Linked DNA regions of Homo sapiens. The protein of the gene in region 3 purifies or fractionates together with the protein of the main gene of each other region. This does not show direct contact. Each region holds a gene or a part of one and is shown on either strand. Other genes may lie near its edges.

Region 1 (3,659 bases), about 19 Mb from region 3:
AAAAAAAAAAAGAAATTATATCCTGGTAGTGATATTACAGGGGTTATTTTTCTTCCTTTATTTCAGCTATATTTAGGGACAGTAGTATAAACACCCCAAACAAACAAGAAAGTAAAGGGTGAATAACTTCAAAGAACAAGGACACTAAAATTTCCAAACTTATCACTAGTACTTTATTAAGTCCAAGTTCCTGGAAATTAGCCAAAAGTCACCTAATTATAGAATTAAAACACAATCCTATGTATTCTTATTCTTGCTTTGGCAGGAATGTACAATACCTGACAGTGCTAAGAGTTAAGTTACTTTCACAAAATCAAAACAGTGACTACAAAGGGCCAGTAAGGGAAAACTAAGGGACTAAGTCCCAATTCTCAGGTCACAAAGCTGTTTAGATAAAACAATTTATTCTAGGATAGATTTGAAGATCAAGTATCTATTCTATAGAGTCTAAAGGTATTATTCAGGTATAAAAATACTGTAAGAAAACTTTACCACCACCAACAACAAACCACTAACCACAGGTTTACTCCCTAAAATATAGCCAAGCCAACAGACTATAAAATATCCTCATATGAAAAGACAGGACTCTCAATTTTGAAATAAACCCCACAGTTTTACTTTTTTATGTTTTTAGAAAACGAGGCTAAAGATCTACTTCATGCTAGTAACTAGTTTCTAAGAAAAAGCAACATGTAAAGGAAACACTGAAAATTACTTCAAAGACAAAAAAAAGTTAAAATGTTACTGCTAAGAGTAAAACCAAAGAAAAACTGGAAAATTAAAGCCTTTCAAGTCACAATTTTAGAGATTTTTCATTGAGAAAGTTCAATACTGCCAAGATGTTTTAAAATAAAAAAAGTTAAGATTAGATGAGGCTATTTTTATTGATTAATATAAGGCAAAACAGGCTATCACTACACATATTAGAACCGCTCAAATAAAAAAGTGGTAACACTAAATGCTAGCAAGGATGCAGAGAAACTGGATATCTCATATATTGTTGATAGGAATATAAGAGGATATAGTCATTCTAGAAAATAAATAGTTCAGCAGTTTCTCTAAAAACCAAACATGCACTTACCATACAATCCAAACATTTGGGCATTTATTCCCCCAAAATGAAAACTTTATATTCACATAAAAATATTTATATACATGAATGTTTATAGCAGCTTTATTTGCAATAGCCAAAAAACTGGAAACCACCCTTCTGGTATGTCCTTCAATAAGTAAATGGTTAAACAAATTGTGTGGTTCAGCCATACTATGGACTACTACTCAATAGTAAAAAGAAATGAACTACTGATACATGCAGCAATTTGGATGGCTCTCAAAGGAAGTATGGTAAAAGAAAAAAAGCCAAAGTTACATTCTGTATGATTCCATTTATATAACATTCTCAAAATGGCAAAATTACAGAGATGCAAACAGATTAGTGGTTGCTGGAAGGGTGCGTGCGGCTATAAAGTGGTAGCATAGGGAGCCCTGAGGTGATGGAGTAGCTCTGTATATAGAACTATAGACTGTTACAGTGGCTATCCAGATCTACACATGATAAAATTGCATACAATTATATATATACACACACACACAAATACATGTGAAACTGGTGAAATCTAAAAAAGGCTTATGGATTGCAACGATGACAATTTCCTGGTTCTTGACATTAAATTATCGTTATGTGAGCTACTACCATTAGGTGAAACTTGGTGAAGGGAACATGGGCTCTGTACTATTTTTCACAACTTCCTATAAATCTGTAATTATTTCAAAATAGAAAGTAAAAAAATTAGTAGGGCTATGTATGAGGAGGTTAATATAATAACAAATGGAAAAGGTTTAGCATAGCATTTGAAACACGGTAATAAAGGCTTCCATTTTATTGAAACTTTTATTACATTAATTTGAAAACACAGGTTTCCGCACTAAATATATACAACTATTTCAGCAAAAAGCATGACTTGAGCTAGAATTCCTTAATTTAATTACCAAATACTATGTGAAATCTCTTGTGCACATGGTTAAGATTGTTTTAAGACTTAAAATTGTCCAAGTGAATAGGGAACCAGTACACAACATAAATGGCTCAACATTCAGCTTTTTTCCCAAAAATCTTTAACTCAAATGTCTTTTTACATCATCAAGTAACTTATCAGATGGAAATAAATGTATCATCTGCTGTGTGATTCCAAATTAAGGAAAGTCTAACTCAAAGCCATCCTCAACTTGAATATATATAATCTCTTACAAAAAAACAATTACGTGTAATCTTAAGAATAGTGAAACAAACTCAAAGCCTTTTTGGCATTCCACAGCAGCTGAGTCCCTACCAAATATTCTGGGGTGGAAAGAACATTCTACTGGCCATCCTCTGAATTCCTCAGCAGACTCTAGGCTGTCCAGTCAGCTCTGTAGGAAACAGCAAATACCAGGTGCTGGTAACTAGTCTCTAATTCTTCAAAAAAGCATTATCTTTGGCCTACAGCCCCTTCAAGATTACTCTATACCTATGTGTGTGTAAGTGATTAATACAGTCTCTAGTGTTGTGGGTGTGATCCTGAAATAGTTTCCACCACTAAATGTTACTCTTAACAGAGTCAACAAAAGAGAGAATAGAAAGCTGTGTGAAATCATACAAAAGCTTGATTTTCTACTTTCCACAGGAAAAAAAATTACTTTAATTTTCTCAGCTTCAGCAGGTGCAAGAATATCTAACCACTGCCATGACGTCTATACCCTTCCTGTGATATTCAGTATACAGGTTATCTGAGAACAAGTGAGAACCATCTGATCAGTTCCGTATCACCAACGGAGCCCTTAAATTCTGTTCCCATGGACCCTTCTGTACTTCTAACACTATGATTTGTTGGCAGGAATTTCACGGAAGAAATTGAGATGTAAGGCCATCTGGCATGCCAGGATCAGAATTTTTCTAATACACACCCCCGTTCCTGACTTAGAATTTTCTAGTATCCCTTTCCCATCCTATCTTTCCTGTAATGTAGTAAGCCTTTTGTGTGACCACTGGGTAGACAGACTCCAAAAAGTCACTCACCGTTTCCTTTGCTTTTCAATAGTTAAAACTTTATGAGTGTTAAAAAAGAGTCCACAAAGACGAAGGGGGAAAAAAAAAGTCCAAACACTGAAATGCCAATGATTAATGGTGACAGTATTCAATGATCACAGATTTTGGATAAAAGATGGAAGTTGTGGAATGAAAGTTAAGTTAGCGGCCGGGCGCAGTGGCTCATGTCTGTAATCCTAGCACTGTGGGAGGCCAAGGCAGGCAGATCATTTGAGTCAGGAGTCCAAGACCAGCCTGGCCAACACGGCGAAACCCCGTCTCTACTAAAAATACAAAAATTAGCCGGTGTGGTGGCGGGTGCCTGTAATCCCAGCTACTCAGGAGGCTGAGGCAGGAAAATCACTTGAACCCAGGAGTGTTGAAGTTGCAGTAAGCCAAGATCACGCCACTGCACTCCAGCCTGGGTGGCATAGCAAGACTCCGTCTCAAAAAACAAAAACAAAACAAAACAAAAAAAACAAAGAAAGTTAAGTTAGTTGAACACAGTATACTAAATTTTGAGACATTCTTAAATATGAATTATATTGTTAGTGTACAATCTACACTATAGAAAACCTAATGTCTTCTTAAAAGC
Region 2 (2,531 bases), on a different chromosome or scaffold from region 3:
AGTGCTTAAGGCGTCCATATTTGATCAGGAGACACCCATAGTTTTTGGAAGTCATCTCATGACAGCAATATGCTTTATGTTTCTAAAAAGGAATTGTTATAAATTAACAATGCCCTCTTGGTAACATTAAAACTGCACTGAATTTTTGGAACCTTCTTAACATTTGTTTCTACATGGAATTTATATAATTTACAAATTTACATTATTCAAAGCTGATGGTTGATGGCACAATATATAATCCTGTGACAAGATTATGAAAAGGAAGTTCCCAGATATCCTCACAGGACATGAGACAGGGGTGTGGCTCATTTGTTCACCCAAACCCCTTACAGGAGGGGAAGCATGCAGATGGGCAAGTGCAGGAGCTGGATTGAGTGCTTTTGGGCTCTGGCCCCACAGTAGCATCTGGTGGGGGGTGTCTGCAACTCCCAAAGCCCCAGTGGGAATGTTACAGGGCTCCTTTAGCTCTGCTGTCTACAGATAGCTTAAGTGTTAACTAGCTCAGTGCCCTCTTGGTACCTGCGTTCTTGTCCAGCGTCCAGGAAGAATCAGGTCACATGGACAAATTGAAGGATGGTAAATGCAGGGGATTTTATTGCTGGATAAAGGTGGCTCTCAGCAGGATGGATGGGGAGCTGGAAAGGGGATGGAGTGGGAAGATGATCTCCTCTCCAACCGTCCCCAGCTGAACTCCTCTGGACGTTTAGATGCTCCTCTCTTCTCTCCTCTGCCGCAACACTCTTCTGCTCATGGAGCCTGGGGTTTAGGGTTTATATGGATACAGGATAGGAGGGCGTGGTGGGCCAAAAGGCAACATTTGGGCATGAAAACAGGAATGCCTGTTCCCATTTAGGGCCATGGGTTTCCAGGCTTTTGCTGGGGAACTGCCCTCTTCTACCCATTATTTCCTTGCCTCTTGTCCATATCAATTATATGTAAGAGTAAGAAGTTTTAATATTGTGTTCCTCCAATCGTTATTTTTTAGTGTTTTATTTCCTTTCCCTTTAAAAATAAATTAACTTAATAACACATCAAGTAACAACTGATTTATGAACTGAAAATAGTAACAAGCTCAACTCCAAAGTTCATGCTTTTCAACAAGATTCAACATCTTTTATTTACATGTTTATGACATACATTAATGGTCATACACAATTTTTAAACTAAATCTAGTAACAACAGAGGATGGAACATAAAAGACACAATTCCAAATTTTAGTCAGGTTGAAATGTTTTTCCACTAACTGAAAGATAAGATAAATGAGCAGCCATTATAAAGTTATGGGCTGTATGTCAATTCACGTCTTAAAATTGAAAGTCAGCCACACAGCTGTTAAAACAATGGGAAATTTGCAAATGCAAATATATAATGCATGCACAGCTATCACATTTATTCTTTATCCTTAAAGCCATTTTTAAAGTAAACTGGGAGAGGCAACTTAGTAATATATGTACATCAAGGCACATTCTTTTCTTGTGCTTTAGGAATGATTTACATGTGATCTGCTTATATCTTAATTTTATACTTTATAACAGCTTCTAATACCTAAAAGCTTAATTTTTAACAATTATTCTTTGAGTGGTAGTTTCCCAGAGAGAAATGTGGCATCTCTCATGGTTATTTTCAAAGTCAGAAAATTGGATAGCTTGAGGAGGTGGGATTTAAAAATCAAACATATGAATTAATATAACTTAGTTTTCATAACCTTTAAAAATAATTTATCTTCAACAATTTAGTGGAACTGTAATCAATTTCTTCAAGTATGATACTATGAGGGCTGCACTGAATAATTTTCAACATTCTGAAATTACCTGACAATTACATGGTATCCACAGAGCTGCTGTGAATGTCTATATTGCTATCTGATTTCTCAACTGCAGTTTTTCAACCAAATTAAACAATTAAACATGATACAAAAGCTGAAAACATACCAAATCTAGTTTGTTTGTTCATTAACTTGTTCATTCTTTGCAAATAATGAGAATTTTTTTTTCCATTAATTGTCCTATGTTATCAAGGAGAATTTTCCTGTCAACAGTGTTTAATAACTGTGTTCTTTTCTCATGGTCAATTTACTTGCCTTGAAGAAATAGTATAGTAAGGTTTTAATAAGCATTTCATGCATTTTAATGGCATTTTAAAAATTAGCTATTCATTTATGGGTTCCTCATATAGATAAATATATTGTGCAAACTTGATTACAACATGTAACTCATAAGTGCTTTAAAATAGAATAAAGCATCCCTGACTTAAAAGGGGATAAAATAAATAGTAAGTCAAGAATCACAGATCTAAAGCATTTAAAAAACGTAATATACCTATGCATCCTATTGAAATGCTTTATATTAGAATTTTCTTTTTAATCCATAAACAGGGCAAATAAATCACAGAATCTCTATATTTTGAGAATAAAACAGAAGAAAAGCCAACTGGTGCAGCCTTTTAAATGCAAAATGTATAATAAAGTAATGTCAAAATGCAAATGAAACTGTACGGTTTTAAATTCAGTACAGTCATTTATAAACATTAAT
Region 3 (3,659 bases):
TGGCTGCGCAGCTCGGGTGCCGTCTTGTAGGCCTTGGGGCATAGCGGACACGCATAGGGCCTAGGCTTGGCCGCGGAGCCTGACACCTTCTCCCCACTGGCTTCCTCTGCCTTAGCTTCTGTCTCTGGCTTTGGCTTCACCTCGGCCACCTCTTCAGAGCAGTCTGCCGGCCCATGTGTGGCAGCGTGGCGCGCTGCCCTGGGCGCGTTTGGAAATGTCTTGGTACAGGACAGGCACTTGTAGCGGCGGCCCGAGCGCTTGTAGCCGGGGGCTGGGGACCGGGCCTCTGCAGCCTCCACTTCCATGGCCTTGGTGAACGGGGTTTCTCTGCAAGAGAAGCAAAGTTAGACCAAAGCCACATACCTTCGCCACTCCTGAAAGCCTCAGAGAGAACCCTATCTCATCTGCATTTCTCACCTCGGAACCCACACATCCTTCCTGCCCAGCATTCCTGGCTCTGACATCCTGCGTTCGTTTCCTCCCTGATCTGCTCATTGAAGAAAGGAGTTGGACCAAGTGTCCGCAGAGCCACTAAGAAAGGAGGCTGAGGGTCACAAAAGATTCACCTACACGTCCCCCCCCGCCCCCAACGGGCTTTTCCAAACACTGTGGCATTCCCAGAGGCCCAGGTTCCATCTGTCTCACCATCTTCCTTCTTCAGCTCAGTGTCCAAGAACTATGCCAGGATAAAGAGTGTACCCAGACGTGGGCCTGGCCTGAAGGTCTCCAAGCGCCCAGAAAAGACAGACCTGGGACCAGAAAAGGGCTGAGCCAATGGGCTAAATCTGGTAGCTGGCACTGTCTGGAAGTGACAGGTCCCCAGCATTTGTGTTTTCTTTCCTCCTCTGGATGGTTAGTCCTCAGAGACAGCAACTGTTCACACAGAATTCTGGCCTTGCACAGCTGTACGGGCCTCCGCCCCAGACTGGAATCTGTCCACTCTCTGCTCTGGAATCTTGTTGGCCTGTTCCCACAACTCTGGTAATGGAGAATCACTCAAGGCAGCCTGAGCCATTGCTAGCAGCTGGAAGCCTCTTTCTGAGTCATAACTGATGTATCTGATCTAACATGGCCTCCTGGGATACCAGCTCTAGCTGAGATCCCTACTTTCTGGTCCAGAACCCAGACGCCCTCCACCCAGCTGCTCCTGGGGATCATGGTTGGGAGGAAACAGGATTAATGGCTGTATTAGTCTTAACACCAGCTCATCCTCCCTGGGGGATGAAGGGAAGAGGATTATGGCAGATCCACTTAAGGAGTGCTCAGCAGCTGCTGCTGGGGGAAGGGGTCTGAGGAGTGGGGGCTGCAGGGAGCCAGGTGTGCCCAGAGGCTAGGGGGCCTACGTTCTACTTGCAGCCCTGTGGATTACTATGAGACCTCAGTGAAATGAGTGTTGTTTATAAGACTATTTCCGCCCGGCTGGGCGTGGTGGCTCACGCCTGTAATCCCAGCACTTTGGGAGGCCGAGGGGGGCGGATCACGAGGTCAGGAGACCGAGACCATCCTGGCTAACACAGTGAAACCCCGTCTCTACTGAAAATACAAAAAAATTAGCCGGGCGTGGTGGCGGGCGCCTGTAGTCCCAGCTACTCGGGAGGCTGAGGCAGGAGAATGGTGTGAACCTGGGAGGCGGAGCTTGCAGTGAGCCAAGATCGTGCCACCGCACTCCAGCCTGGGCGACAGAGCAAGACTCCGTCTCAAAAAAAAAAAAATAAAAAGACTATTTCCTCATCTGGACACGTTAGGGGTTGGTGGCTTCTAAGTTATGACACTGGGGTTCAGGAGGAGGAAACTGAGCTGAGCCACGAGGGTGCTAGGGGAAATACAGAGACTCAGGGCCCCTTATGCCAGGAAAGGGCGGGAGAAGCAGCTTACCTGGTTGACCCAGGGAGGACACAGGAGCCCCTGACGCGTGGCAAGGGCCACATCCTTAAAGTCAGCACCCTTCTGCCTGAAATCCCGGCCTCAGGCCTGCACGCTGCCCTCCCTCCCCAACCCCATGCAGCCGGTCTTCTCCCAAAAGTAATGAATGATGTTTCCTGTTCCCTGCTCAAGAACTTTCCATGGCTTCCACCACACCATGCAAATCCCCAGGTCCTTCCTGCTTGTTCCAAATCTGACAAGTCCTTCACTGGAGCCCCACTTCCACCAGGAGGATCCTCAAGCATCTCCCCTTTGGGTTTGGCCCCAATCCCACAAAACTCCATCTTATTCTCACTTGGTTATTTCACTTTTCCCACTAAATCCTAGGGCTTAGCCAGGTGTGGTGGCATGCGCCTTAAGTCCCAGCTACGTGGGAGGCTGAGGCGGGAGGATCCTGTGAACCCAGGGGTTCGAGGCTGCAGGGAACTATGATCGTACCACTGCGCTCCAGCCTGGGCAACCTGGTGAGACCCCATCTCTACTAAAAATAAAAATTAGCAGATGTGGTGGCATGTGCCTGTAGTACTGCCTACTTGAGAGGCTGGGGTGGGAGGACTGCTTGAGCCCAGGAGTTCAAGGCTGTACCACTGCACTCCAGCCTGGGAGACAGGGCAAGACACTGTCTCAATCAATCAATCAATCAATAATCAATCCTGGGGCTTGAAGATAAGTTAAAGGGACTGAATTCTAACCTTTCTGATGACTTGAATTCTTCCTACAGTTTCCAAGGGATCCCTCCCTATTTCTGGATGAGGTACTCACTACCTCTTCCAGACGGTTTCTGGAGAGTCTGCCTGATAATGTTCCTCCTTAATAAAAATGATAGCTTGGGCCAGGTTCAGTGGCTCACACTAGCACTTTGGGAGACCAAGGCGGGTGGATCGCTTGAGCCCAGGAGTTCAAGACAAGGCGGGTGGATCCCTTGAGCCCAGGAGTTCAAGACCAGCCTGGGCGATATAGCAAAATCCCATTTCTACAAAAAATACAAAAATTAGCCAGGCATGGTGGAGCATGCCTGTACTCCCAGCTACTCCAGAAGGCTGAGGTAGGAGAAATGCTTGAGCCTAAGGAGACTGAGGTTGCAGTAAGCCAAGATGGTGCCACTGCACTCCAGCCTGGCAACAGAGTGAGACCCCATCTCAAAAATAAATAAATAAATAAATGATAAAAAAGATAGTTCACATTTACTGAGCACTCGCCAAATACCAGGCAGTATCCTAAACTCCTTATGTGTATTAGCTCAGTTACCCTTCATGGCAACCCCATGAGGAAAGTTCTATTATTCCATTTTCACAGATAAGGGAACCAAGGTCCAGAGAAATGGTTCAGTATTTTGTTAAGTGCCCAGTCCCTGAAGCCAAACTGTCTGGCTTCAGATTTTGCCTCCATCACTTCCCAGCTGATGTGACCGTGTGTAATGTACTGCATGTCTTAGAACCTCAGTTTTCTAATCTGAAAAATGGAGATAATGACAGTACTTACCTGACAGAGTTGGGTGAGGAATGAATGAGTCAAAAATAATTACTGTCCTCAATTATCAAAGCGTCTTCTTAGAGCCAGACACATTGCTGGGTGTGCTGGTTTATTTAATTTAATGTCTTATACCTTTCTGAGATAGGGATTCTTGTCCCTACTTTACAGAGGAATAAATCGAGGTTCCAAGAGTTAAGTGACTTGCCCATGGTCCCACAATGGGTAACCTAAGCAGCTGGGACTTCAGTCCAGGTGTTTAATTT

What was found.
Region 1: the proteins of ZNF668 (region 3) and TENT4B purify together in Homo sapiens (affinity purification with mass spectrometry; one large-scale study listed by BioGRID and IntAct). This does not show direct contact.
Region 2: the proteins of ZNF668 (region 3) and ZBTB11 purify together in Homo sapiens (affinity purification with mass spectrometry; one large-scale study listed by BioGRID and IntAct). This does not show direct contact.

Annotation. Positions count from the first base shown.
Region 1 is NC_000016.10:50,159,770-50,163,428, reverse strand, and holds part of TENT4B (terminal nucleotidyltransferase 4B), read right to left. Parts: intron 1-3,659. UniProt on the Homo sapiens protein: Terminal nucleotidyltransferase that catalyzes preferentially the transfer of ATP and GTP on RNA 3' poly(A) tail creating a heterogeneous 3' poly(A) tail leading to mRNAs stabilization by protecting mRNAs from active deadenylation.
Region 2 is NC_000003.12:101,648,355-101,650,885, forward strand, and holds the end of ZBTB11 (zinc finger and BTB domain-containing protein 11), read right to left. Parts: 3' UTR 535-2,531; downstream 1-534. UniProt on the Homo sapiens protein: May be involved in transcriptional regulation.
Region 3 is NC_000016.10:31,064,155-31,067,813, forward strand, and holds part of ZNF668 (zinc finger protein 668), read right to left. Parts: intron 876-3,659; exon of another isoform or gene 646-875; intron 532-645; exon of another isoform or gene 465-531; coding exon of another isoform or gene 418-464; intron 328-417; coding exon of another isoform or gene 306-327; coding exon 1-305. UniProt on the Homo sapiens protein: May be involved in transcriptional regulation. May play a role in DNA repair process.